Homo sapiens: one gene and its partners. The protein of the gene in region 2 interacts with the protein of the main gene of each other region in a pairwise test. Each region holds a gene or a part of one and is shown on either strand. Other genes may lie near its edges. The genes, in order: YIPF1, APCDD1L, CYBC1 and FXYD6.

Region 1 (7,029 bases), on a different chromosome or scaffold from region 2:
AGGAACACAAGCAATCAAATGGGTATGCTTCAAAAAGTCACCAATATTAGCTCTCCACAAACTGCCTCTTTACTCACTAGACTGAAAGCTTTCTGCTGTAGACAAGGACTAAATCTCACAGTATTATTCTGAGTGACCACACATAAGAGTGGCAAAAAAAACCAACAACAAACAAAAAACCCCACAAAGCCCCTATAGCCAAAAAGCTTTACTGAATGAATAAATCTGACCATGTGTTATAGATGAGCTGAGACCATCCAAGGGTATGACCACAAGTGGCCAAAATATTAACTTACAATACCCAAATAACTAGAAAACCAAGAATATTATGTCCTCTCAGTCATTATTTACTAAGTACCCACTACCCTCTGCTGGGGACACGATGATGGGCAACAGAGACACAGTCACTGCCTCTAGTGCACCCATGCACTCCGGGGAGACGATCAATAAAATATCTAATCTCAGAAGGTAGTACAGGGTGCCTATGGGAGCATATAGGGAAGGTGGAAAACCTAGAGAAAGGGATGTGTAAGCTGGGATCTAAAGAAGAACAGGAGTTCACCAAGTGAGGACAGAAGAGAAGAGAGGTCCGTGAAGAGGGAATAGCAGGAGCAGAGACTGAAGTAAGAGGTACCAGTTCGAGGCCAAGCTTCAGGTCAGGAGTAGCCAGAGATTGAAGAGATGGGCCAGAGTCAGATCATGAAGGGTCTTAGAAGCCCTGTTGAGTTAGGAATTTATCTTGAGGGCAACAGGAAGCCTGTGAATTGGGCCTGGTGGCTTAAGCCTGTAGTCCCAGCTACTCAGGACACTGAGGTGAGAGGGTCACTTGAGGCTAGGAGTTTGAGGCAGCAGGGAGCTATGATCATGCCTCTGAATAGCTACCGCACTCCAGCCTTGGCAACACAGCAAGACCTCATCTCAAAAAAAAAAAAAGTGGGGGCGGGGGGGAATGCGGTGGCTCACACCTATAATCCCAGCACTTTGGGAGGCTGAGGCAGGCAGATCACTTGAGCTCAGGAGTTCAAGACCAGCCTGGGCAACATGATGAAACCCTTTCACTAAAATATTAATTAACTTTTTTAAAGGCAGGCTGGTATGGGAAGATATGTATACTAATGTGAAGACTTATCTAGCATTCTCTAGCTGCCCCATGCTCTAAGCTACCTAACAACTCTGGCACGGGAACAGCTGGAGAAACAATATTTTCAGGTGGCCTGAAAGGTCCAACACCTGCCCACCCACTACCTCTATGTGGCCCAATGCTCATCCTTGGACACAAGCAAGATAACTTTCCCAGCCCTTAGCATTTTTGTCCCTCTCCTATTATCATCCCTCTCCCCCGTTTGCAACCCTTCACTGAACCTCCACTGCTTAAGGACAAAATCCTAATTCCTGAGGCTGATATAAAAGGCCCCAGGATCTGGGCTCTGTAACTTCTCCAGCTACCCCCAGTGGAAGGCTGGACTCCAGAGACTTACGACACCCACTCATCCCAGGACCTGCCATGTTGCTTCATACTGCCTTCTCCGTTTCCTGCCAAATTCCTACTCTTATTATGGGTTGGGGGTGGGAGAGAGCCTTAATTTAGGTTGTATTTATAATTAAAATTTCATATTATGCATTTTTATATTATGAAATATTTCTAACATACAGAAAAGCACGAAGAATAACACAAACACTGGTTACCTAGCATGTCACTTTTAAAAAATATTTTTAGGCCGGGCATGGTGGTTCACACCTATAATCCCAGCACTTTGGGAGGCTGAGGCAGGCAGACCATTTGAGGTTAGGAGTTTGAGACCAGCCTGGCCAACATGGTAAAACTCCGTCTCTACTAAAAATACAAAAATTAGCTGGCGTGGTGGCACATGCCTGTAGTCCCAGCTACTCGGGAAGGCTGAGGCAGGAGAATCACTTGAACCCAGGACTCAGGGGTTGCAGTGAGCCGAGATTGCGCCTTTGCACTCCAGCCTGGGTGACAGAGTGAGACTCTGTCTCAAAAAATATATATATATTTTTAATGGTATCATTCTATTCATATCCTTCCACAACATGCTTTTTAAAATCATTGTGCTAAGATTTATCTATATTTATGCTTTTAGCTCTCATTCATTTTTTTAACTACAGAATTCCATGTATAAATATAGTAGCACAATGTATCCATTCTCCTGCTGATGGATATCTTGGTTGTTTCTAAATATTTGCTATTACAAGCAATACTGCTACAGTGGATAATATTCTTCTATATGTTGTTCCATATATATGTGAATTCCTCTAAAATTATCTACCTAGGAGTGAAACTGCTGAATTATAGGGTATAAGCATCTTCAAACTGCTCCAATTTGTGTACCAGTTACATACCCACCAGTTACATACCTACCATACAAAAGTTTCCACTGCTCCATATCCTTGGCCACACTTAATATCAATGTTCATGAAATCTGACTTAGAGTATGTCACTCCTGGCTTGGGGCAGTGGCTCATGCCTGTAAGGTCAGCACTTTGGGAGGGTAAGGCAGGAGGATTGCTTGAGGCCAGGAGTTTGAGGCCAGCCTGGACAACATAGTGAGACCCTGTCTCTACAAAAAATACAAACATTATCCAGGCATGGTGGCACATGCCTGTAGTCCCAGATACTCATGAAGATGAGGTGGGGGAGGATGGCTTGAGCCCAGGATTTTGAGGCTGCAGTGAGCCATTATCGAGCCACTGCACTCCAGCCTGGGCAACAGAGCAAGACCCAGTCTCAAAAAACAAAAAAGTATGTTACTCGTCTGTCCAAACTCTCCAATGGCTTTGCATTCAAGCAAATGCCAAAGTCCTCACTGTGACTTATGAGACCTTACCTGTCCCTCCACACTGTCTCTCTCACCTCATCTCCTTCTAGGTCCCCCTGTTCACTCTCATCCAGTCGCAATAGCCTCTTGAGGTTCTTTGAATGTACTAGGCTAGCTCTTGCCTCAGGGCCTTTGCACTTGCTGATCCTTCTGTTTCAAGTGCTCTTCCCTTAGATATCTACATAAATCACTCCCAATTACTTCAGGTCATTACTCAAAATTCACCTTTTTAAATTTTCAAATTCACCCATTTATACAAACACTTCATGTCCTTCTTCTCTCTGCTATTAAATTTTCACCTAAGCATTCATTACTAGAAAACTATATATTTTACTTTTCTTTGCTTATTGTTAAGCTCAGTAAATTAAAAATTGCCTAAGGGTAGAGATTTTTATGTTTTCACTGCTGTATCTCCAGTACAATAGCAAGAGCTCAATGTTTGTTGAATGAATTGAATGAATAAATGAAGACAAGCCAAACTGTGTATGTTTACTAAAATAATGAGCATAAATAATCTTATTTTACTTTTTATTTCTCTGGTTGCAGGTGGGGCTAAGCATCTTTTCATATATTTATTGGCAATTTTTTCCCCAGAGTTGCTTGGTTTATTCTTCTAATTTGTGGGAGTTCGACATATATTCTTGTTTCTCACTGTTTGTTGGTTATATGCATTGGAAGTATGTCCCCTGGTCTGTGGTTTATTTTTTTACTTTACTTATGGTTTATTTTGTTGTGTAGAAATTTTAAATTTTAGGTGAAATGTAGTCAAAGTTATCAATCTTTTCCTTACACTCTGTAAATTGTCATCTTTTTCTTAACTGCCTTCCTCTAACCTCCACCCACAACAAAACCTAATCCTCTCTGCTATCAAACACTTCACCTATATTGTACCTTCTTCTTTTAACCACGTCTATGAGCTAATGAGGCTACTAGTGTCACAGAAAAGAAGCAAGCCTTGGATTCAAGCCCTGGCTTTGTCATGAGAGGCAGTATAGCATAGTGATGAAGAAATGGATTATGAGCTACAGTGTTGATTTGAAAATTGAGCCCAGCACTTACTAGCTGTATAATCTCAGGCAAGTTACTGGACCTCTGTGTGACTCAGTGTCCTCATCTATAAAATGGGGATAATAATAGTATCTCCCTCATGAAGTTGGATCTGGCATAAGGATTAAATGAGTTAATACAGGTACTGCCCTAATAATAGTGTCTGGCACATAATAAGCATTATATGTGTGTTTGCCATTATTATTGCTAACTCTGTAACTACGGGCAAGTTATCTCCTTAATCTCAGTTTTCTCTTTTGTAAGATAAGGCTACCTTGGAGTATGGGAAATAAAATAGCATAAAATACTAAAATAGTGCTTATCTCCACGCTTGGCACTTATAAGGTATTCAACAGATGTTAGTGTTCTCTCTTCTTCCTCATTGGGGCTAGGGACCATGGCCTTATCTTTAAATCCTCAGCCTCTAGCACAGAGTCTAGCATAAAATAAGGTGCTAAAAATTGTTTGAGCACCTGCTGTGTGCCAAGGCCTCTGCCAGGCACTAAAGACACTGAGGCACAGAGCCTGCCCCTCAGGATGTTCTCAGGCTACAAGTAAGAATGAATGAGACAGAGAAACCACCCTGACAACCCTCAGATGAAAAGCATGGGCCAGTGCAATGGTTTTCACACCAGGCTCCCTAGAGTCCATATTTAAAATCAACATATATGACTGCTTTACTATTTATCATTTCTGATTGAGCATATATATCAATGATCCTCACTGAGCATCAGCTTCCTCATTTGAAAAGTGGGGATACTTTGCAAGGGTTGTTGCAAGAATGAGATATGATCAAGTACACACACAGTCTTTGGTACAGCACCTGGCACACGGACAGCACTCTCTTCTCCCCTCAAACACAGGCCACTGTTGGGGCCTTTTCCTCAGGAGTACTGGGTGGACCTCTGAGTTTTTCTCAGACAGCATTAAGGTCAGGGATGACAACAATCCCCGGCCCAATCCTGTTTTAGACTTCCACTGCTGGTGACCAAATCCTAAAAGGAGCCAGCTCATCTGAGGGCAGAGCTGGAACTCAGCATATCAATGAAAAAGTGTGAGAATACCTTCTCCTCCAACATCAAATGGTCCAATCTCCACCTAGTCAAAGTGACTAAATTTGTCTCAAGTTGTAAAGTTATTTGAAGAATTTTTAAAAATCATTCTTTTTATTTTTATTTTTTAGTAGAGATAGGGTCTCCTTATGTTGCCCAGGCTGGTCTCAAACTCCTTGGGCTCAAGCAATCCTCCTGCCTTGGCCTCCCAAAGTGTTGGGATTACAGGCGGCAGCCACTGTGCCAACCCAGCCTTTAGTAGAGACAGGGTCTTGCTATGTTGCCCAGACTGGTCTCAAACTCCTAGCCTCTGGCAATCCTCCCATCTTAGCCTTCCAAAGTGCTGGGATTATAGGCATGAGCCACTGCGCTCAGCCCCATTTAAAGACCTTTGAAGGATATACTAGTACTTGTAATGATGACGTGGCACTAATATAACACATAATTGTATTCCTCCAAAATTACTTGCAAGGGTTGCTACTGAAGTTCAGAAAAGTCTAATAATACATGGCATGCCCCACCAATAGTGCAGTTCTCCACATTTCCAGGCAACCCTCACACTCACCCAAGTTCAACTGAAATACGGTAAACAAATCAGTACTAAACATACCATAGAGATCTGGATTGCTGCGGATATATAACCTCACAAAGTTTTTCCCGGGTATTGGCAAAAGAGATCCTTTAATTCTGTCAAAGACCTGGAAAACATCATAGCAGTAATTCTACTGAAGTTTTTTAAGTTTAATAAATTCAACTACTACAAAATTGAAACTCAGTCATTAGAGCTTTTATGATAGTATTTTCAAATGCTAATAACCCTTTACTTTTGTAAGACCATTTTCAGTATATAAAGGCTTTCACATTATTTGGTTGTTCAACCATTAAAGAAACAAGTCTCCTTTACCCGTAAAAGGAAAGGTGAAATTGGTTTCCAAACCTGGTAGGTGTCCACATCAAAGAATGTTTGGTAGTATTCAAATGTCCAGAAGGGGGAGCTTTTCTTCTGTCCAGCAAGTAACTGTCAGAAATAAAATAAAACATAATGAACACATAAGCAATTTCTTAATTCCAGCTGCGTGGGGTGCAGGAGGGATCTGATCTAATGGAAAAGCAAAACGTTTGAAACAATAGGCTCTTCCACATTCAATAACCAACTCTGAAATAGCCAATTCGCAACTCTCAGCCTGATTAGAAAAACAAGCATTGGTTTTGAAGTCACACCAAAAGGGTTCAAATCCTGGCCCCTCCACTGAGGGGAGCTTTGGCAAATCACTAGACTCCTGCTGGGCTTAGTTCCCTTATCTAGATTCAACAGTATATAGAATTATGTACAATAATAAATACATATACACACATACAACACATACAGAAGGCAGTCAGTGTAAATATCTTTTCGCTTTTTTTTTTTGAGATGGCGTCTCACTCTCTTTCCCAAGCTGGAGTGCAGTAGTGCAATCATAGCTCACTGCAGCCTTGAACTCCTGGGCTCAAACAATCTTCCCACCTCAGCTTCCCAAGCAGCTGGGACTACACGCGTACACCACTATGCCCAGCTAATTGTTTAATTTTTGTAGAGACAGAGTCTCATTATTTTGCCCAGGCTGGTCTCAAACTCTTGGGCTCAAGTGATACTCCCGCCTCAGCCTCCCAAAGCACGGGGATTACAAGCGTGAGCCACTGCATCCAGCAGTGTAAATATCTCTTCCTCCCCCATCCATCCACAATCCTCCCTACTATTGCCACCTGAATTCTCAAAAATCTGATATATTGACTCACTCTAAAGTACTAAAAATATTACTACTCTGACAAAAAAAAAAATCCTATTGAGAAGAGGCACCTGAGGAGGGCCATACCCATCCCAACAACACAGCTCTTTGGTGGCAGAATGCATGCCCAATGCCAGGAATTGTGCCTGTCATCTTCAGATATCCGAAGGGAATTCATACAGCAAAAAGTACGGTGAACACTGAGCTGCTTTGCAGGACAAGGGCAGGTGCTATAGGCAGATATTTTTTGTTCATTATAAAGGAAAACGGATGGCCGATTAGAAGTAGCTGTGGTCTGCAGCACTCACAGAGAGGAGTGAAAGCGGT
Region 2 (7,029 bases):
ATAGGTGTTCAAGGTGTTGAATGGATTTTGACCATGGACGTGATGCCCAACAGAGTCCCTGCCTCCCATTGCACTCTGGGAGGGGAGGCAAGCATCTCCAGCAGCTTGGCAGGTAGAAGGCCTCTTGGATAACTATGTGAATTATGCCCATTTCAAAGATTGGATGCCGAGTCCCAGAGGCAGAAGTCTCCCAGTCCAGGGGTCCATGGTCAGGATGACCTGAAGTCTTACCCTGTGGAGATCCAAGGTCCATTAAGGCGTGGAGGCAGGATCGCAGTGCTGGGCACTCTATCTGGCAAGGGCTGCTGGCAGTGGGGTTCCCAGCGCAGGCAGCTGCCCCCGGCCTCCCCAGCCGCCGGTGCAGTGTGGGCTGCAAAGCAGACAGACCTGGGTAAGACCCCAGCATGCCCCGGGAACACCCACCCCATCTGCCCTCCCAACCCCACTGTGGCCACAGAGAGCCAGGCAGGGCTGTCCCGCAACCTCCATCGCAGCCCCGTCCCCAGGGTGCCCCAGTTCTGGAGACAGTGATGGGTTCCCCATATTGAGGATCCTAGAATCAGCCTCCCCGACGCATCTCCTCCTGGGTTCCCAGATGTGATCACCCTAGAATCCAAGCCTCCTAGATGGAGCCTGTCCCAGATTCTGGGGCTGGGAGGCCTCTGAGAATTGTACACGTGGAGCAGACTCTTAGAAGCCCAGACCTTCCACGGGCTCATCAGCCGTGGCTGAGTCCTGCCTGCTGGTGGCTGAAGGACCCACGCTCCTGGACAAAGGGCACTCTGGACTCAGGACCCAAGGTGCTGGGGACAGTGGGGCCCTAGCCTATCCCTAGAGCAGACCACTCCCCTCCACCAAGGAGCCCTGGGGGCTGCTTGGCCTCTCCCGGCACACAGCAGGCCCCTCGAGGCCACTCGCTTCAGGTCTCACCTGGTGCTGGGCACCTGCTATCTACTCGGTGCTCAGCGAGCGTGTGGCAAGGGAAAGAGCGCATGGCCGCTGCAGAGGCCCGGGCCGAGGTGTGAGGCCAAACAATGCAGGCCCTGCCCTTCTTCAGGGCTCCGTCCCTAAGCCCAGACACCAGGGGGAGGAATTGGGCTCAGGGCAGAAGGTGACTGGAAGATGGACACGGGAAGCAGGCGCTGCAGCACAAGCTCCAGGTCCTCTAGAGTGACCCCTAGATGAGCTTGGCTGGGCCTGGAGAAGTGAAGCCCGGGAGTGGGACTGTTCACGATCTTTTCTCGGGCTGCTGAGAGGCGAGAGTGCCAAAACCTTCAGCTGCTAAAGAGCAGCAGCTCTCCCAGAAACTGTCATCTCCAATCAGGGCTGATGGGCTTGAGATGGCCCAGATGACGGGATGCTGTGGGAAGCTCGGCAGTGAGCTGCGTCCAAATACTCCAGCCACGGGCTGTGCTCAGGGGCGCTGGCCTGGCCCTGGAGGCCCAGCTCCTGCAGCGAAGCTTCCAAGCATGGCTCTTCCCACCCAGCCTGGGGCTGGAGTGGGTCAGGAGGGGCTGAGTCTTAGGGCTCCAGTCCAGGGGATGTGGGGGCCTGGCAGTAACTTCAGGAGGCCTTGGGAGGGGTTGGGGGCTGAGTTGAGAAGTGAGCAGATGGCGTGTTCTGTCCCTTTCCTGACCTTGCAGGCAGACCTTCCCAGCAAGGGTTCAGGAGAGCTGAGGGCCCCCCACTGCCCCCGCGGAGCTGCCTGACCCCAAACTCTCTGTGCCCCAGGGGTATTTGAGGAAAATGAGGCAGAGTGGATTCCTCAGTTCCCTTGAGGTTGGGGGTTGCCTCTGGAGACTTTTGGGGTCCCCAGTGATCAGCTGAGAAGGCAGGAGTGACGCTGATTATGACAAGGGGGATGACGGCACCTGTTAACTGGGTGTGGACCCCTTGCTCTTTTATACATTATTCCCATCTGATCTTTGCAATAACCCTGGAGTCGGTGTTAGCATCATCTTCCTCTCATGGGCAGAGAAACAGGCTCAGCTCAGAGATGGGCTCAGCTTCCACGGGGCACATGCCACCCGGATGTGGCAAAGCCAGGATGTGAGCCCAGGTTGTTGGACTTCGGGGTGTGACGGCGTCACCGGTGCTTGTCTCACATCCCCAGAGAACACAAAAGGGGCTGACTTGGAGACGGGGTAAAACGCAGGGCAGTCAACAAACATTGGCCGACTGAATAAACGAAGGTATGAGTACAAATGCTGGTGTAGCCCTAGGTCCCTGTTGTAATCTTGGTTCATCCTGCAACTGATTTATTGGCTTTAATTAGCCAAATAGGAGAAATGAAAACAAATAGCCACCCAGCCAGGGCCAAGGTGTCCCCACACCGACTCATCAGCACTTGGGGCCACTCTGCCAAGTGAAAGAAATGCCAGTGGGATCTTGAAAGAGAGAGGCCGTGGTTGTTTTGTCTCAACTTGGCACGTCTACTTTGCAGGAATTTGTGGCAGGATATTGTAGTGGGTACGTAGGCACCAAAGTTGGGCCAGATCCCCATGCAACTCGCCAGGAGTCCTGAGCTGACGGGTGCACGTCAGCGTCAACACCACGTGCATGTGGGGCTTCTGCAATCTGCTTCTTCAGAAGACACTGGGTTTCCTGGATTCAATTCTGCAGGTTAATTTGAACATCTTCAGTGTCAACGAAACCTGTCCAAAAGTGTTGATTTGGGGGAATGGATGAAAACAGAGCGAGGAAAAGGATCAAAAGGGGTCAGCAATATTTGCCTGGTAGGAAAATCAAGCTTGCGTTTCAGAGTAAAATAGTGAAGGGGCCCTGCAAATTATCTTGTCATTGTTTCCACAAAACTTGGGCTCTTGAGGAAATGTTTTTCTGTTCAAAAGAAAACAAGGCTTTTTTTTTCCCCCTGCACCCTCCCTGAAGTCACTGAGACTAGATGGCCCTTTTGTCATGAATCCTCAGATCCTGTGTTTCTGCCGAGTGCATTTTAGTTTATCTTGTTTTTCTGTGAGGAACTGGGATTTAATTATGTTGGGAGACTCTGAGATACAGCGAAGTGTTGCTGCATTCGGAACATGTACACACAAATGCGAAGAGCTCCTCAAGATGCACCTGTGGAGGAGCATCACGTGGCCTCTTGGTCATGCGTGAAGTCTCAACTTCAAGGTTGCAAAAACGAAATTAACCAATTATAAATGATTCCATGACATTTTCTCCAACATAGCTCTTGGGGTAGATGTTGGATTTTCTTTGCTTCCCCCCCCACCCCTTCTCTTCCTCCAAAAAAGTCTTAACTAAAGAAATAACAGCTGAAAGCAGATGGTGCGGTGGGTTGGGTTACACAACTTTTTGCAGGGAAGTGATAGACGGAGTTAAATGCATGGACCAAATTGACTTTTATCAACCATGGATTTTTAATTAACAGTGGTGTCCACTTACTGTCATTCATTATTTACTGTTTACCCACTAATTAAAAATTATGCTGTTTTTGCATTCATAAGAGCAGGGACATTTGAAATTAGATAGCATTGTTCAAATTACCTGCAGAATTAAATCTAGAGTTCCCAATTGCTCAGACCAGGCTACCGGAGCTTAAAATATGACCTGCTTGAGGCCGATGTGTTATCCTGAATCAGAGCACCAGAAACAGGCCTCATGAACAAATACCATATGGACCTGCCTGGGGCCTTCCGGGGAAAGGACACTCACTGAGCACACCCAGAAGTGTGGGCACTTGGCTAAGATTGTCTTGAGATCATCAAATGGTGCCCAGCGTCTCCTGAGCACACATTCTGGGAGGCCCAAGGCCAGGTGCTTCATCTGCATCATGACCTTGAGTCCTCACAGCGGCAGCGTGTCAGTACCTTGGCAGAGCCCAAAGGATTGACAGGTATAATCGACACAACCACCCGTGACATGGGTTCTGTCAATGCACCCATTTTGCTGATGAGGAAACTGTGGTTCAGAGGGGTGGAGGGACTTGGCCATTGCCACTCCTCCACAGACAGATGCTTCTTAGCTAAATAAAACACAACAACACACCTAGTAAAATACACCTAACATAAAAGGTACCATCTTGGCTGGGCACGGTGGCTCACACCTGTAATCCCAGCACTTTGGGAGGCCGAGGTGGGCGGATCACCTGAGGTCAGGAGCTTGTGACCAGCCTGGCCAACATGGTGAAACCCTGTTTATACTAAAAGTACAAAAACTAGCTGGGCATGGTGGCGCGCACCTGTAATCCCAGCTATTCGGGAGGCTGAGGCAGAAGAATCGCTTGAACCCAGGAGGCAGAGGTTGCAGTGGGCCAAGATCATGTCATTGCACTCCAGACTGGGTGACAAGAGTGAGACTCAGTCTCAAACAAAACAAAACAAAACAAAACAAAAAATAACAGGCACCGTTTTAACCATTTTAAAGTGAACAATTTGGTGGCATTAGGACATTCACAATACCGTGCAAACACCAACACGATCTCATTCCAGAATGTTGTCATCACCTCAAAAGGGGACCCTGTGCCCATCAGCAGTCACTCCCGCTCCCCTCTCCTCTTAGATCTCGGCAACAATGACTCCGCTTTCTGTCTCTGTGGATTTGCCTATTCTGGATATTTCATAAAGATGGAATCCCACACTCTGTGCCCTTCTCTTACCTCCCTTCCCCAGCAATTCTCCTAGATGGGTGTGGTTATTCCAGTTTGCAGATGAACAGTGGAGGCCTAGAGAGGCTTCACTCCTGGGGCCACAATTTATGTTTTCTTCAAAGATCATGAAAAACGCAGGTATGGATCAAAGAGAGAAGAGGGTGGAGAAAAGATGTGAGTTTTGTAGTCAGAGCAGAGGGAGAAATATCAGCTTTTCAGGTACCTTTCTTCTGGGGGTAAAAAGCAAAAGAAAAGTACTTTTTTCTCCTGTAATCTGCTTGTTCTGAGGTTCTCGAAGCAAGGCACGAACGAACACAGGGTGGGGTGCGAGGTGATTTCAGGCGCGAAGCGAGCACTTCGTATTCCAACAGTCACGCGTCGGTTTTAGAGGGTGTTAAAAGTGGCGGTAGTTATCATAACAGCCTTGTACTTGCATGGCCCGTTTTTCTGAGGACTGAGTTTTAAAAGGTGATTGATCTGAACTTGATATTAAAATATTTGGTATTTTAATTATTTTCTTTTAATATTTTAATAAAATCATATTTTATAAGGAGATGTACAAGGGACTCGTGGGTGTGGTAAATGGCCTGAGGGTGGTGCACGGAAGACGGAGGGAGGAGCAGCTCAAGGTGAACTCGTCACCTCACCTGAGGCACGCGAAAGGAGAGCATCTGGGCATCTCAGGGCTGCCACGACAAAGACCACACGCTGAGTGGCTGAAGCAACAGGAGTCGATCCTTTCCCAGTCTGGAGTCTGCAAGTCTGAAGTTTGAAATCAAGGTGTGGGTAGGGCCTCTCCCAGCACCTGGTGGCTCCAGGTGTCCCTTGGCTTGGGGCTGCATCACGCTGGTCTCTACCCCCATCTTCCCATGGCCTTCATCCCTACTTGTGTGTTTCCTCTGTCTGCACCTGTGTCCAAATCTCCCTCTCCTTTCTTTTATAAAGGCACCAATCCCTGGATTAGAGCCCACCCTAATCCTAATCCAGTGTGACTTCATCCTAACTTGATTACATCTGCAAAGACCCTATATCCAAATAAGGTCCTATTCCCAGGTACTGGGGGTTAGGACTCGAACATATCTTTTTTGGGGGGTTACATTCAACCCACAGCAGATAACAAGGGCCATCCAAAATTGAGGTCCCCCAGGTGACCCAACTATCATTCATTCATTCATTTCTTCTCCCCAACACAAACACTTATTTTTATTTATTTATTTATTTTGAGACGGAGTCTTGCTCTGTCGCCCAGGCTGGAGTGCAGTGGTGCAATCTCGGCTCACTACAACCTCTGCCTCCCAGGTTCAAGCAATTCTCCTGCCTCAGCCTCCTGAGTAGCTGGGACTACAGGCGCATGCCACCATGCCCTGCTAATTTTTGTATTTTTAGTAGAGACAGGGTTTCACCATGTTAGCCAGGATGATCTTGATCTCCTGACCTCGTGATCCACCCACCTTGGCTTCCCAAAGTTCTGGGATTACAGGCGTGAGCCACTGCGCCCTGCCCCAAATACTTATTGAATGCCTGTTGTATGCCTGGAAATGAAATGGACTCTGGGTCTATATGGCTGCACATGATGGTCAGAATTCCTGTTCTCCTGGAGAGACTGACATTAATCAAATAGACTCACATCAGAGTAGAACTTCAAACCATCCCAAGTGTCTTGATGGAAATTTAAACAATGGCCAACAACTTCAATGATTTCCCAGTGCACTTGGTTCAATATCCAAGCTTTCTTGTGTAGCCTCGAAGCCCTTTGAAACTGGGTGCCTTTTTACCACCAGATCATCCACCCCATCCCACCGTGCTTTTCCACTGTGAGTCCCTAGTGCTGAAAGGGCAAACCTTTGGCTGCCTTGAGGCTATTGCCTGTGCTGTTCCATCCTCTGCTCTGTGCTGGGCTCTCCATCTTCGCGGAGATCTCGGCATAAATGGCATTTCCTGGCAGTGCATCCTTTCCAGGCACCCCTCTTCTGTTCACTCCATTCTCTTCTCTCCTGTGCAGCACTCATCACATCTGGCATTTATTATCTGCTTTCTTACTTCGGTTTACTTTTTTGACTTTTCATTCTGAAATAATTTCAGACTTACAAAAATGTTGCAAAAGTGGTAGAAAGAGTTCTAGTGTATGCTTTGTCCAGTTTCTCTACAGGTTAACATCTTACGCAGACATTGTGCAATGATCAGAACCAGGACGTTAACATCAATACAGTGTTCTTAACGAGTCTACAGACCTAATTCAAGTTTCATCCATTGTCCCATTAATGTCCCCTTTCTGGTCCAGCATCCAGTCCAGGATCCTGCATTGTATTGAGCTGTCATGTCTCCTTCAATCTGAGACATATCTTCTCTTTTTGTCTTCTACGACTTTGACACTTTTGAAGAGTAGTGGCTCTTATTTTGTAGTGTCCTTAGTTTGGGAT
Region 3 (5,696 bases), on a different chromosome or scaffold from region 2:
GGTAGGGTCAGTAGCCCCATTTCACAGGTGAACTGAGGCACAGGGCAGTACTGACCATGGGGCTGAGGGCAAGTCCCAAGTGTGCAGACTGTGCGTTCATGGCGCCCTCACCTGCAGCCTCCTGGCACAGTGGAGCACCCTCGTGCAGGAGCTGGAGGCTGCCCTGCAGCTGGCTTTCTACCCGGATGCCGTGGAGGAGTGGCTGGAGGAAAACGTGCACCCCAGCCTGCAGCGGCTGCAAGCTCTGCTGCAGGACCTCAGCGAGGTGTCTGCCCCCCCGCTGCCACCCACCAGCCCTGGCAGGGACGTTGCTCAGGACCCCTGAGGGGAGAGCTCATGCCAGGGGGCTCCTGCTGGAGGCTGGGGGGGCTCTGCACTGCCAAATGGCCTGGGCAATACGGGCCCACGTGGGCGTCGTGCCCTCTGGCCCAGCAGTGTCTTGCCCACACTCAGTTCCTGAGGGCCCTGGGCAGCCCCTGGGGGAGAGACTAGAAAACACAGAAGGAAGCAGCACAGGGAGACCCGCTTTGTGATCTGCATGTGTGACACTGATTCTTTGGAAATAAAGAGTGGAAGCTGCAGGTGACACGTGAAGGGTTATTTATGGTTATGATGACCCTGTCCTGCAACGAGGGACTGGCAGCCACTACTGAGGAGGAGGGTCCCATCTCTCTCCTGTCGGCTTTCACCGAGGTCACAGCCAGACGTGGGGCAAAGGTGTTCCCTGTCCTACCCAGCCATTCCTGGGCCTGCCGCCTAGGGGCTCACAGGGCCCAGGAGTCCCCAGCTCACAGGCCAGGGCATCAGGCCAGGCGCGCTCGGTGCACACCGCACCTGGGAGGACCTGGGTACACTCAGGAGACCAAGAGCACTGGCGGGTCAGGATGGTTGGCGTTCAGCTCCTACGGGGTGGGGAGAAGTCTGTAGCCGAGAGCCCAGCCCCCTCCTGCCAGGTCTTCCCAGGTTCGAGAGAGGCTGGAACTCAATTTCTGCAGAAAATCTCCCAGTTTTTCCTGTTTGGTTAGTTTTTTTACAAAGACAGGATCTTGCTGTGTTGCCCAGGCTGGTCTTGAACTCCTGGCCTCAAGCAATCCTCCCACCTCGGCCTCCGAAAGTGCTGGGATTACTGGCATGAACCACTGCGCCCGGCTGGAGCTCCCGGTTTTTAAGCACTGCACGATACTAGAAGAGCTGACCTTTTTTCTGGCCTCACAGCTTATGCTGAAGCTGAGTGTGAGGAACAGAGAGACCTTTCTGTGACGACCGCTGGGGCAGAGTGGTCTATGCGCCGAGATCCTGGCATCAGCAAGGGAGGCGGGTCCTCGGGGAGGGGCAGCTTCCACAGTGTGGCTGCAGCGTGCACAGCCAGGTAGGCCCTGGATGTTCACCCCTCACTGCCCTTGGGGAAGCACCTGACCGCTGGGGATGTCCACCAGGGAGAGGACGCTGTGTCGGGGACAACATGCAGCATCAGCACCCACAAGGGCCCGGCCTGGCCCCGCCTCTCCACTCGCCCGAGGTCTTGCTGTGGCCCAAAGCAGGAGTCCAGGGCTGGCGAGACCTCCGGCTGCAGAAAGGCAGGCCCAGGCCTCACGATGGAGAAAGTCTGGATGTCCTGGTCTGGCCTGCTGTTTCATGCAGTGTGCAAGCAGCAGCATGAGCAGGCAATAGGCCAACTCGGCTGGAGGCACCAACTGAAGCCAAGGCCACGGGTCCTGTGGGCGGTGCACGGGCTCAGGCACACCGGGAATGTGCCACGGGTCCTGTGGGCGGTGCACGGGCTCAGGCACACCGGGAATGTGCCACGGGTCCTGTGGGCGGTGCACGGGCTCAGGCACACCGGGAATGTGCCACGGGTCCTGTGGGCGGTGCACGGGCTCAGGCACACCGGGAATGTGCCATGGGTCCTGTGGGCGGTGCACGGGCTCAGGCACAGTGGGGCTGTCAGCTCTGGCTTGCAGGGTCACCGGCCTCACTGTCGCTGCTCTGAGACAGCTCTGTGGGGCTCTCAAGGCAGTGCAGCTCCAGGAAGCTGGTGATGAGCTTGGCGATGGCTTCCACATCACTGGGCGAGGCCGGCAACGGGAGGAAGGTCAGGTCACCTCGGCATAGGGCACCGTGAGACCCCACAGCAGTCTCCTCCTCGACCACCTACCTCCCGCAGACCCTGGAGCTCCCAAACTGGACCCAGCACTTCCTGGCCTGCTCCCAGCCTCCCCGTCACAGTGGGGCTGCCCCTGAGCCTGCACACGCTTCCCGTGGGCCCCTCTGTGTCCCGTCCACAAACTCATCTCCTCTCCCAGCTGCCCCATAGCTCTGGGCAGTCAGGAACGGGAGTGACCTGCTACGGCTGCAGCTCCGGCCAGATCAAAGTCCCACAGCCTTACCTGCGGTGGCCCATGACTGCACTCTGCGTGAGGGGGTGGGAGAAGCCCGTCGCAAGCCGGAGCACCACCATGTAGCCTTTCCCGAAGTACCGGACCTTCTCCTCCTCCACGCTCACATCACGGACATCATGGAGCAGGACCACCACTGCGGGGAGACGGTCAGTGGCCGAGCCATCCCCGCCCACACATGCTGCCCGGCAGTCGCACCAGCGCCACTGGCATCATCGAAAGCGACAGCCACACTTGGTTGGCAGCAAAAGCATTTGCTGTTTCCTGCCTGAGGCTGGGCCCCGGAGGACTGCTGTGGCCCTGAAGGCAGTGCAGGGTCCTCTGGGTGGGAAGGACGTGCCCGCGGTGCAGGCTGGCGGGTCACATGCACAGCCCGCTGGTTCTCCTGGGAGTGCCGACTGCGGGGACCCGCTCAGCGCGAGGCCATCTTTACACTGCACTGTTCCTCCAGGTCTCCCCAAGGTTGGCTGCTGAGCCAGGGCCACCCTGCAGTTTCCCGTGGCAACTCAGGGCAGCCACCTCTTCGGGTACTGGGGCGGTCCCAATGGCTGTCAGAAAACGGCACAGCTGCCTCCCACAGCCCAGGCCAGCCCTGCAACTGCTCTCCCCAAAGCCACAGGTGACCTGGGGCCAATGCCCTGGCCAGGTCCCTGCAGGGATCCAGGAAGCAGCCTGTCAGAAGTGCAGCATTGCGGCACTAAACCCAAGACTGCCCAGCAACTCTGGTCGCCAGAATCTGTCCCCTCTGGGGCTATGCATGGGCGGCCGGACCCCGGGGCCTCTGTCTGTCTGTGCGGCAGCATCTACAGGAAACTGGTACTGACCACAGCTGGGCCAGTGCCCAGGCTCAAGGGTGGGGAGTTCCTCGGACCATCCAGCCCCTACTGCAGGCCCAGTAGAACCCACAGGAAAGCTGGAGCAGCGCCAAGGCCCGCAAGAAGCCAGGTGGCCCCACTCCAGAACGCCCACGGGCTGCCATGGCTCTCCCTGCCCCGTCCTGTGACCTGCCGCTGGGGCCAGACTGCACCTGCGGACAAGTGGCTGCCAGGCAGACGGGAGAATGCAGCTAAACAGAGGCTGCCCGAGCCCGGGTGGGCCAGACCCCTGCTCCTCAGACCCCTGCTCTGCCAGACCCCTGCTCCTCAGACCCCTGCTCCTCCCACTCTCCCCAGGGGCCAAACCTCTAAAGAACCCAGGAGGCTCTAGGACCCTGCTGAGCAGGTGAGCAGGTGGGGCGTATCCGTGGGATCCTGCTTCCAGCGGGCAGGACACAACCCTGGTCACCAAGCAGGTGAGCTTGGACCAAAGGCACTTCCAGGCCCCCCTCTAGGCCCCGTGAGTCACCCAGACGCCCAAGTGCGCCGCCTCTGTGGCCGTGTCCCATGTCCCCACGCTCCCCACGACTCACCCTGGTCGTGGCCAGCTCTGAAAAGAGTCAGCAGCTTCTTGTAGAGGCTGAACGTCTTCAAAACAACCTTCCCTGTGCTCTTGTCGAAGATGGCTTCCTGGAAACCGACATGCACTGACCACCATGAACCTCCAGGAACGGGGGCCCCGTGGCCGCTGGGGCCTCACCCCCACCCTCACCAGGGTGGACACTCAAGAAGGGGGGCTGGGGACCCTCCCAGTCAGAACCCAAACCCCTGAAGCCACAGGTGCTGCTCTGTCAGAGCCGGATATCGGCAGCCAACCCGACTCCTGTTGGGAAATGGAGAGGTGGGCAGGTGCAGCAGGCGCTTGCTCCACCCTGCAGGCAAAACAAGTGCAGGGAGGCAGTGGAACCAGCAAACGAGGGCATGGAGGTCAGAGGGCAGCACTGGGCCAGGCTGAAAGGACTCATGAGGGGCTCCGAGGTGGGAGGGCCGGCCACGGGGAAAGCTGACTCGCATCCCATTGTGGCAACTCTGGGAAGAAAGCACTTTGGTGAAGATAGTCATGGAGAGCTTCTAAGAGAAAAATGCCTTCGGGGAATTCCTTGGCCAAGAACGGTCCCAGATGAGTGCAGGGGCCATGTCCTGATGAACGGAGACCTCCAAGCAGGGACCAACGCTTCAGGACGGGGAGGCGCTAGGCCACCCAGGGCCCTTCCTCCTCCTTTCATTCCCATTGCAAAAAACCCAGGAGCTGAACAGCCCTGGACTCTGTCCCGCACCCGAGCCGGCCTTACCTCCCAGTCCTCCAAGTTCTGCACAGCCACAAACAGGCAGCCTGTGACGTAGAAGAGCTTCCAGCCCAGGCTATCTGGAGATGGGCATAGGGCGCCAGCCTGTGAGCTCCAGGGACATGCCCACGGGAGGCCCCGCCTAGCACAGCCTCCCCCAGACGCTGGCCAGAGCCCACGCTTGCAAGGACCCCCTGGGCAGCTTCCTGTGCTGCTGACCCTGCCCTGGCCACTCAGGACCCACACGCGGCACACCCCACCCAGCTCTGACCCCCAGAGTCCACGTGAGAGAGGCAGGTGGGGCGCACAGGGCCTCTGCCCGTCTGGGCAGGCCCAGTGATTGTGGCAGGGTGGGAAGTACACCTCATCCCACAGCTGGATCTTAGATCCTCAAGAGCATCTCTCCGGGAATATTTGATGACCCAAAAACACAGAAGACTTAAGAAGTGAAATGTGGCCGGGCGCAGTGGCTCACGCCTGTAATCCCAGCACTTTGGGAGGCCGAGGCGGGCGGATCACGAGGTCAGGAGATCGAGACCATCCCGGCTAAAACGGTGAAACCCCGTCTCTACTAAAAATACAAAAAATTAGCCGGGCGTAGTGGCGGGCGCCTGTAGTCCCAGCTACTTGGGAGGCTGAGGCAGGAGAATGGCGTGAACCCGGGAGGCGGAGCTTGCAGTGAGCCGAGATCCCGCCACTGCACTCCAGCCTGGGTGACAGAGCGAGACTCCGTCTCAAAAAAAAAAAAAAAAGAAGTGAAATGTGGGCTGAGCGCTGGGCAGGATGGGCGTGCGGAAGAACAGCAGCGCATGGAGGGCGCGGTGCCCGCCAGCAATCAAGGGGCAGAGGTGCCGATCCTAAAGGCCGCCCCATGGACAGTCACAAATGACAGTTTTTCCTTCTTTTCTCTGTTTTCCAAACAGCTGAGACAGTCATGGGGGGGTGGGGCGGGGGGTGCTTTACCTCCGCTGTAGTAGGCAGCAGCCAGGCCAATCGACAAGATTCCTATGAAGAGAAAGTGACTGCCTGCCTATTGATCCCGGTAAGACCCCACCTCCCTGGTGCAGCGGGACCAGGAGCCACAGCCCCTGATGAGCAGGCCCTTCCCACTGTAGGAACAGCTGTGGTCAGGGGTTACA
Region 4 (7,036 bases), on a different chromosome or scaffold from region 2:
ATATTGGGGGGCTGCCTGGCACAGTCTGCCATCCAGATGGCGGCCGACTAAGTCCAACAAGGTTGGGAGGAAGAGAGGAGGTGCTCTTATTTAGGGGAGATTTCGGTGGGTGGACTCCCCCGAGGCTGTCGGGAAATTTCCAGGGTCTAGGAAACTGCCCTTTCTCCCCCATCTCCTTGCCACAGCTTCCAGCCTCGCCTTCCAAGAAAACATAGTGAAGCAGGCTCCTCGGTTGTACCCGCCCACTAAGGGACCCTCACTTTGGAAGGGCGTCCCAGTCACCAGCCGACCAAAGGCTCTCCCTCCATAGGTTTCCATCAACCCACCATCTCTGATGGTGACTGAGAAAAGAAAGCAAGGGTTGCAGGACAGGCAGTGTGAAGGCCAAAATCCTGGCCGAGGAGTTAGAAGGCCTCAGCGACTACTGGCCACGTGACTGCTGAGCCTCAGTTTCCCCCACTGTGTTCCCACTGGATGCTCCCTCAAGGCCTCTTCCGGCTCTGAGAAACCTAGGATTCCGATGTCAGGGATTGTGTCTCCCTCCTCACCTTCATGTCCCCAGCAATTAATACACAGTAGACACTTAAAACAGTTCTTTGAATGATTGAATGAAATCGGTCCTCAGGTCAGTCTGAAGATCCGATGGAAGCCAGGAAGGAAACGCTTCCCCCAGGCGCCTACCGTCTGTCAACCATAGAAGCCACACGTCTTGGGAGAACCCTGGCAAGCCTAGAGCCCTTTGCACACCCGCTTCCTCTCCTAGATGCACAGATCTGTTTGGAGGAGCCAGGGGGGAAGCAGGAAAACGTGCCAGGAAGAGAGGGTGGCCTGAACCCCAGGCAACGGCGGGTAGCCCTAACTTTCGCTTTCTTGACTCCTGTGGCCCCTCTCCTTCCCTCTTTCTGGTTTCCCTCCCCTTCCTGCCTCCCTGGCCTGGCCTCCTTGGCTTTCCTGGGACAGTAACCACTTTTCCTTCTCTCCTTTGTTAGGGCTCAGAGCCTCCGATGGTCCCAGAGCTGGCCTGATCCTCTGCTGGTGAGGATGACTCCCAGAGCCTCAGGCTTTCTCTGGGTCAGGGAAAAGAGCAGCGGCAGTGGAGAGATTGAAATTCTGGTCAGTGCCCAGCTTCTGGAGCCCAGCACCTGGGAATGGCTCTCGTTAACACCTGGAGCTCCGGACTGGGGCTTTGAGGAGGAGGGAAAAGGGCTGCGCCCACTCTTTATCCAACCTTCCCTTCCAGGTTTAGGGAAGGGGCTCCTCTTTTGAGGGAATCTGGCAGTGCCTTTCCCTCCACCTTCCTCTGCAGGGTTCCCAGGGAGATGTTAGGGTTTTCCTTCTGGGCTTCCTGAGCCTCCATCTCTTCCCCTCCACACCCCTAGGGAGGTGGCTGGATAAGGAAGGAAACTGCCCTCTCTCTCCCCTGCCTCAGCCCAGCCTGAGACTTATTTAGATGTACTGTGTGTGTGTGTGTGCATGCACAGTGCGCATGTAGGGTGTCAGTGTAGCATTGTAGCTGGTGTGTGGTGGTGCGGTATATATGCGGTGTGTTTGGTGTGTATGTGTGTATAGGTATGATGTATATGTATGTGTGGTGTGAGTGTGAGGGTGTGTTGATTGCGTAGTGTGGTATATGTCTGTATGTGTTTGTGGTGTTGGTGATGTGCAGTGTGTGTGAAGTGGGTGGTGTGAGTAAGGGGCCACTGCAATTGGGTGTAGGAGCCAGATATCTAGGTCTCCTAGCCAGGGATAACCAGTATCTAGGCAACCATACTGGGGGGAGGGGAGGAGATATGGAGGTGAGGAATGGGCAGGAGAAAGAGGGAGGCTGAGAAATGGAGGAGTTTCCATGGCAACGACCAGGCAAGTCACGTGCAAAAGGCTAAGTTGCGGACGTAGACATACACATCCATAATATGAGGGTGGCTGGATCCCCAAAGGGGGCTCCTTTCAGAGAGGGCCTGAGATGCCCACTGATCCATCTTCAAAGCTGGAAATCTTAGCCCAGCCAGACAGCACGAAGCCACAGAGACAAAGGAAGTAGTGGCAGAGAGCACACTGGTGGGGAGAAGCCTCCAGTAGCCACGGTCCCGCGAGCGTGCAGGCTTGCAGCAGGTGACGCGGCAGACCCATGTTTCCAGCGAGGCTGCTCCCAGCTCCCACCCTCGGGTGCCTCCTCTACCAGCCACCACTTGTAAGAGCCAGAAGCCAGCGCTGGGAGCTCCAGGCTGCACACCCAACTCTCCACGGAAGCCCGGGAGACACAATAGGGGAGGCTCTGCCAGGGCCAGCCCTGCTGGGGAAAGGGGGCAATGGCGGACCCCAGGGCCCCCCGGAAAGGAAACAGGATTGGATGGATAAGACAAGAAGGAGGGAAAAAATGATGCACTCTCATGAATCCCCGAGCGCTAGAATCCTTCTTTCCCTGCGCCCCCATCCTGTGCCCACTGCCCAGCCCCACCTTCCCCAAGCACCAAACCAGCAAGTTCCATTTTGTGTCGCTCATAAGTCCACACTCACACCCAGCCACACGCCCTCGTCCGTAATTCCCCACGCTCCACCAAGTGTCCACAGCTTCCAAGTAACAAAGGGAAAACTCCTCATGGATAAAGGGTGGGCGCAGCCCTTTCCCCTTCTCCTGAAAACCCTGACCCCAAGCTCAAGGCAGCACCGAGAGCAATTCCCAGCCACCAGCGTCACCCCCAGCGCCACAGCCTGCCTCCCCTAGAGGCTCCTCTCTCTTCCGACGCCGATCTCCTTGTTTACATCCCCAGCCCGGTTTCCCGCTGCCCAGGCGGGGACCGCGGCGCAGCTGACCGCGGAGGACCGCACACACCCACTGAACACACAAAACCCGGCGCTCCCGGCGCTCCAGAGATCGGTCCCCACCGAGCCTCGCCCCTCCTCGGAAAAAGGAGCCAACTTTGCCCACCTCCCCAGCCGCCTACCTGCACAGCCGGTCCCCTCCGAGACTCCCAGGAGGACCCGCCGAGTCCCGAGGAGCCTGGGAGTGGCGGGGCTGGGGGCAGGGCGGTGGGTGAGGCTTGAGCTGCTTTCCCGCCTCCCCTCCTCCTAGGAGTCGGGCTGGCTGGGAGGCGCGTCCTGCGGGGGCGGGGGGGGGGCTCGCTCGGGGCTGGGCTCGGGGACAGCCCACTCCGTGCTGCCGTCCGCTGGCTTCTGGGTAGCGGCCGCGCGCAGACCCCCTCTCCTCCTCTCCCTGTCCGTCCTCCCGCTCTGTGCTCGCGCGCGTCCTCTGCTCCTCTCTCCTCTCGAGGGGCGGAGAGATTTTTCCAAAGGGCAGTCAAGCTCCGAGAAGCAACAGGAGACTGCCGCCGAGGAGGCGTGCAAGCGCCGGAGCGGATTTGCCATCAGCTGTTGCTTTTCGGTTTCCCTCTGGTTAGGGTGGGAAGGGAGCAAGACAGGCACAATGACAGACCTGGTGTCTCTCTGCAATAGTAAACCCCGAGGAACGGAAAAATAGGAGAAAATAACCCAGCACCAGACACAGCAGCCCACGTTAATTGGGAGCCTTGGTAATTAAGGGGAATGTGCACCAAAAGCATGAATGGCTGTGTCGTGGGCGCAGGAGCCAGCTCCAGTTGTAGTTGTCATTTTCAGCTAGAGCCAGGTGGGGAGCTGGGGGGATGGTCCTTACCTGAACCATAGATCTGCTGCCTTGAACCCCCTTTTCAAGCCCCATCCACCTCTGGCCCTGCCAGGAGCAGTACCACCCCGTCCTCAGCCCAGTCCCCAAGAGTCAAAATTCATGATGACGAACTTTGAATGTGAAGATGTAAATAAATCCTGGCTCGGCAACCCTGCCTGTGACGCGACTTGGAGCATATCTCTGCACTCAGCTCCTGAGTCTATTTCCTCACGTGGGAAAATGGTGATTAGAGACTGACCCCATGGGAGGCTTAGCTCATAGTGAGTGCTCAAGAAATTGGCTCTTACTATTAGGGGCAGAGCTTGTAGGAAGGGGCAGAGGCCAGGCACAAGTGTCAGTAGCCAGGAGCCATGCTGAGATGGAGGCTGTCCAGCCTCAGTCAAGGTGTGTGTATGGCCGAGCCGGGTGGAGGGAGGAGCTACTGAGAAAGGCTGTGATTGTCCAAGCCTAGGTAGGGCCACGGAGAGTTCCTTACAAACCCCAAGCCGGGGATGATGGGTACTGCTAGGAAGAAACCTAGCCCTGCCTCTGCTGCCCTCAGTTCTGGGCCTGTTTTCTCATTTGGGAAAATAGGGAGATGGACTAGATGATCCTGAGGTCTCTTCCAGCTCTGCCCTAGATGATCTAATTATTTTAATAAAAGGTCAGGTCTCAAAACCCCAAGGCAGGAAATATACATGAACTCAAGAAGACTTTGGAACCAGTAGGGGAACCATAAATAGCTACTGAGAAAGAGCACCCAAAAAGCCTCCCCTCAGGGGATAGTTCTGGCCCCTTAATCATGGGACCTGGCTGAATGGATGCCACTCTGGCCCAGTCCTGAACTCCCTGGGGTTCCTGTGAATGCTAAAGCTCCTTCTCCAAAGCCAGACTCAAATCTTGCCTATTTGCGTGCCTAACCCTTTGCCGTTCCTGTCTTTTCCTCTATAAACTGAGGACAGCATTCCAACTGTCGTTTTCCCTTTTCATGTATTCTAGGTGGCAGATTTAAAACCACATCCCTTTCTAGGCCCATGTCCTTAGGCAGGTACATTCATCCCTCCAAATGCCCTTGAATCCTGCCTTTTGGCCATCTCTCTGTGCTTTTTAGAGCACCTACTAGTGATGACACGTCAAGCCCAGGCTTTGCAAGCCTATTTGGGAAAGGATAGTTCAGAACTCCAAAGCCAAGCCACCTTCTGGTTCAACCCCATTTCCAGCCAGAGAGTTCTGAAGTGTTTGGCCCAGTGACTTCCCAGGTCCCCCTACCTAATGCTGACCAGCCCAGGCTGCAGAGGGATAACAGGAACTAAATGTGCATGAGAAACCGCCATGGCTTAACTCTCAAATAGTGCTTCATCACGTTCCATCCAAGGGTACTGCTGGAAGAATTTGGGGTGTTACAGCTACAAAGCAGCACGCAAGCTTGTTCTGGGGTGAGTCACATCTCCCTTCTAGCAGGAAAATAAACACATCTACCCCCTGTGAAAAATGTGGGCATTCATAAAAAGAGGTCGCCAGCTGTTCCATTCTTTCAACCACGTATGGACAGGAGGAGCTACTCTTCACTGAGACCTGGGCCAAGATCTGAGGATATACTGTGGAGAGGAAAGATGTGGTCCCTGGGTGAGATAGAGATTTAGCAAATGTTCCCATGAATAAACGTGTAATTAAAACACAGTTCAGAGCCCTGAAGATATAGCATTTGAGAAAGGTCAGGAGATGTTAAGAAGATGAGGTAAAGGAGCCAAGAATTGGGATGTCAGGGTGGGAAGATGATTCTGCCTCTGGAACAGAAGCAGTATGTGCAAAGGCCCTGAGGCAGAAGGGGCATGGTGTGAAAGGAGCCAGGGTGGGACTGGCCCAACAATTCCTGGTGATTCCAGCTTTTATCCTGGGAAGCACTGATGGGCATCATGAAAACTGTTCTGAGCAAGAATTGGTGAGAGGTTGGGTTGGGATGTTCCTGGTGGACCCTGCAAGTCAGGGTTCAGGGGGCTGTGTGGGGGCAGCACTAACATGAAGCTGAGAAATAAGCCTGATCCCCACTAAAGAATCCTGCTTCTTTACAAGCCCAAAGAACAAAAAAAGATCCAGGGCAGGGCTGCGCAGCCATGGAGAAAGTAGGGTAAGAAAGGGTGGAAACCATTCCTGAAATACTCCCCACCCGCCAGAACTGGAACCATGGGAAGACCTGGAGCTGGAGAGGACAGCATAACTGCTGGGAGCATCAGGGACTGCTCTATGCTTTGAAGCTTGCTCTGGGCTAAGTAACTCACAAATGTGCAGCTAAAATCCCATCTGGAGAGGACTTGCCCTGGTCCCCTTGTATTGCAGCAAAATAGCCCTTCCGCATGTCAGTGCCCTGGTCACACAGCCACGGACAGGTCACAGAGTGACCTCCTGTGTCCTGGTCACACCGGACATGGAGGGCCTAAAGGGGAAGTTAAAGGGGAGAGACCAGGAGTCTTAGAAGAGACCCTCACCCCTCCTAGCAGGCATCCCTTCTAGTGGGGTGCCACTTCATCCTGGGGTGGGGCTGCAGAAGGGAGCCGATCTTGCCCACTGACTGCTACTTTGTGTCCATGCATACCCACTTGGCTTTGCACAGGTGTGAATGTGTGTCCTCCCCACTCAGCCAAATGCCAAACCCCCAACCCCTAGGACAGAATCGTTTCCTAGCTCCTTGGCTGAAACAGCTCTGCTCACTTCCAAACCACTCCTTGATCCTGGGTCCCTTCCTCTCTCTCCAACCTTTCTTTGTCAAACTCCTCCAACTTCTCCCTCAAGCAGCTGTGTTGAGTCCTTGGTCATCTTATGCAGTTGCTAGACAATCTAAATCCACAACCAGGGTTTTACCACCCGCTTAGGCTTGATGAGTCCACAATATCCAGCCCGGTCCTCTCCCCAGGAGACCCAGGCAAGTAATCCCAGGGAGTCAGCACCGCCCACTCCCAATCCATCCTCCCAGTCCACTCCCTATCCATCCTCTCACGGCTTGAAGCCGTTCCCTCTCATGTCTTCTTTGAATTCATGAATGGCACTGCCCCCAATCCAGTTACCCTGCAGAACACATGCCACGCTCAGACCTCTCCCCCAGTGCCTCCTTTCCTGCCCACCACTCCTGTTCTAGGTCAGGTCTCTGGCATCAGATTCTCACTGGTGACTCTGCCACAGTCCCCCTACCTCTAGGTAGAGTTATCTTCCCCAATACAAATGCGATTCAAAACTTCAATGGCTCCGTATTTTCTACGAGTTAAAGTCAAAATTCTTAACACGACATTCAGCCTTTACAACCTGACACCCACCTGCCTCTCCTGCTTCATCTCGTGACCCATTCCCTGCCCTATTTCCCCCCATCACCCTCATCACTCCAATCCTTGTAAATGTCGT

What was found.
Region 1: the proteins of APCDD1L (region 2) and YIPF1 interact in binary tests that used the Homo sapiens proteins (3 or more experiments, as listed by UniProt).
Region 3: the proteins of APCDD1L (region 2) and CYBC1 interact in binary tests that used the Homo sapiens proteins (3 or more experiments, as listed by UniProt).
Region 4: the proteins of APCDD1L (region 2) and FXYD6 interact in binary tests that used the Homo sapiens proteins (3 or more experiments, as listed by UniProt).

What each region holds. Positions count from the first base shown.
Region 1 is NC_000001.11:53,872,769-53,879,797, forward strand, and holds part of YIPF1 (protein YIPF1), read right to left. Parts: intron 5,955-7,029; coding exon 5,874-5,954; intron 5,635-5,873; coding exon 5,547-5,634; intron 1-5,546.
Region 2 is NC_000020.11:58,470,378-58,477,406, forward strand, and holds part of APCDD1L (protein APCDD1-like isoform 1 precursor), read right to left. Parts: intron 371-7,029; coding exon 232-370; exon of another isoform or gene 1-231.
Region 3 is NC_000017.11:82,442,060-82,447,755, forward strand, and holds the end of CYBC1 (cytochrome b-245 chaperone 1), read right to left. Parts: intron 5,563-5,696; coding exon 5,521-5,562; intron 4,638-5,520; coding exon 4,564-4,637; intron 3,902-4,563; coding exon 3,805-3,901; intron 2,533-3,804; coding exon 2,388-2,532; intron 2,066-2,387; coding exon 1,945-2,065; 3' UTR 534-1,944; downstream 1-533. Other genes in the region: HEXD (hexosaminidase D), read left to right, coding at 118-533. UniProt on the Homo sapiens protein: Functions as a chaperone necessary for a stable expression of the CYBA and CYBB subunits of the cytochrome b-245 heterodimer. Controls the phagocyte respiratory burst and is essential for innate immunity.
Region 4 is NC_000011.10:117,873,647-117,880,682, forward strand, and holds the start of FXYD6 (FXYD domain-containing ion transport regulator 6 precursor), read right to left. Parts: upstream 3,013-7,036; 5' UTR 2,946-3,012; intron 1-2,945. UniProt on the Homo sapiens protein: Associates with and regulates the activity of the sodium/potassium-transporting ATPase (NKA) which catalyzes the hydrolysis of ATP coupled with the exchange of Na(+) and K(+) ions across the plasma membrane.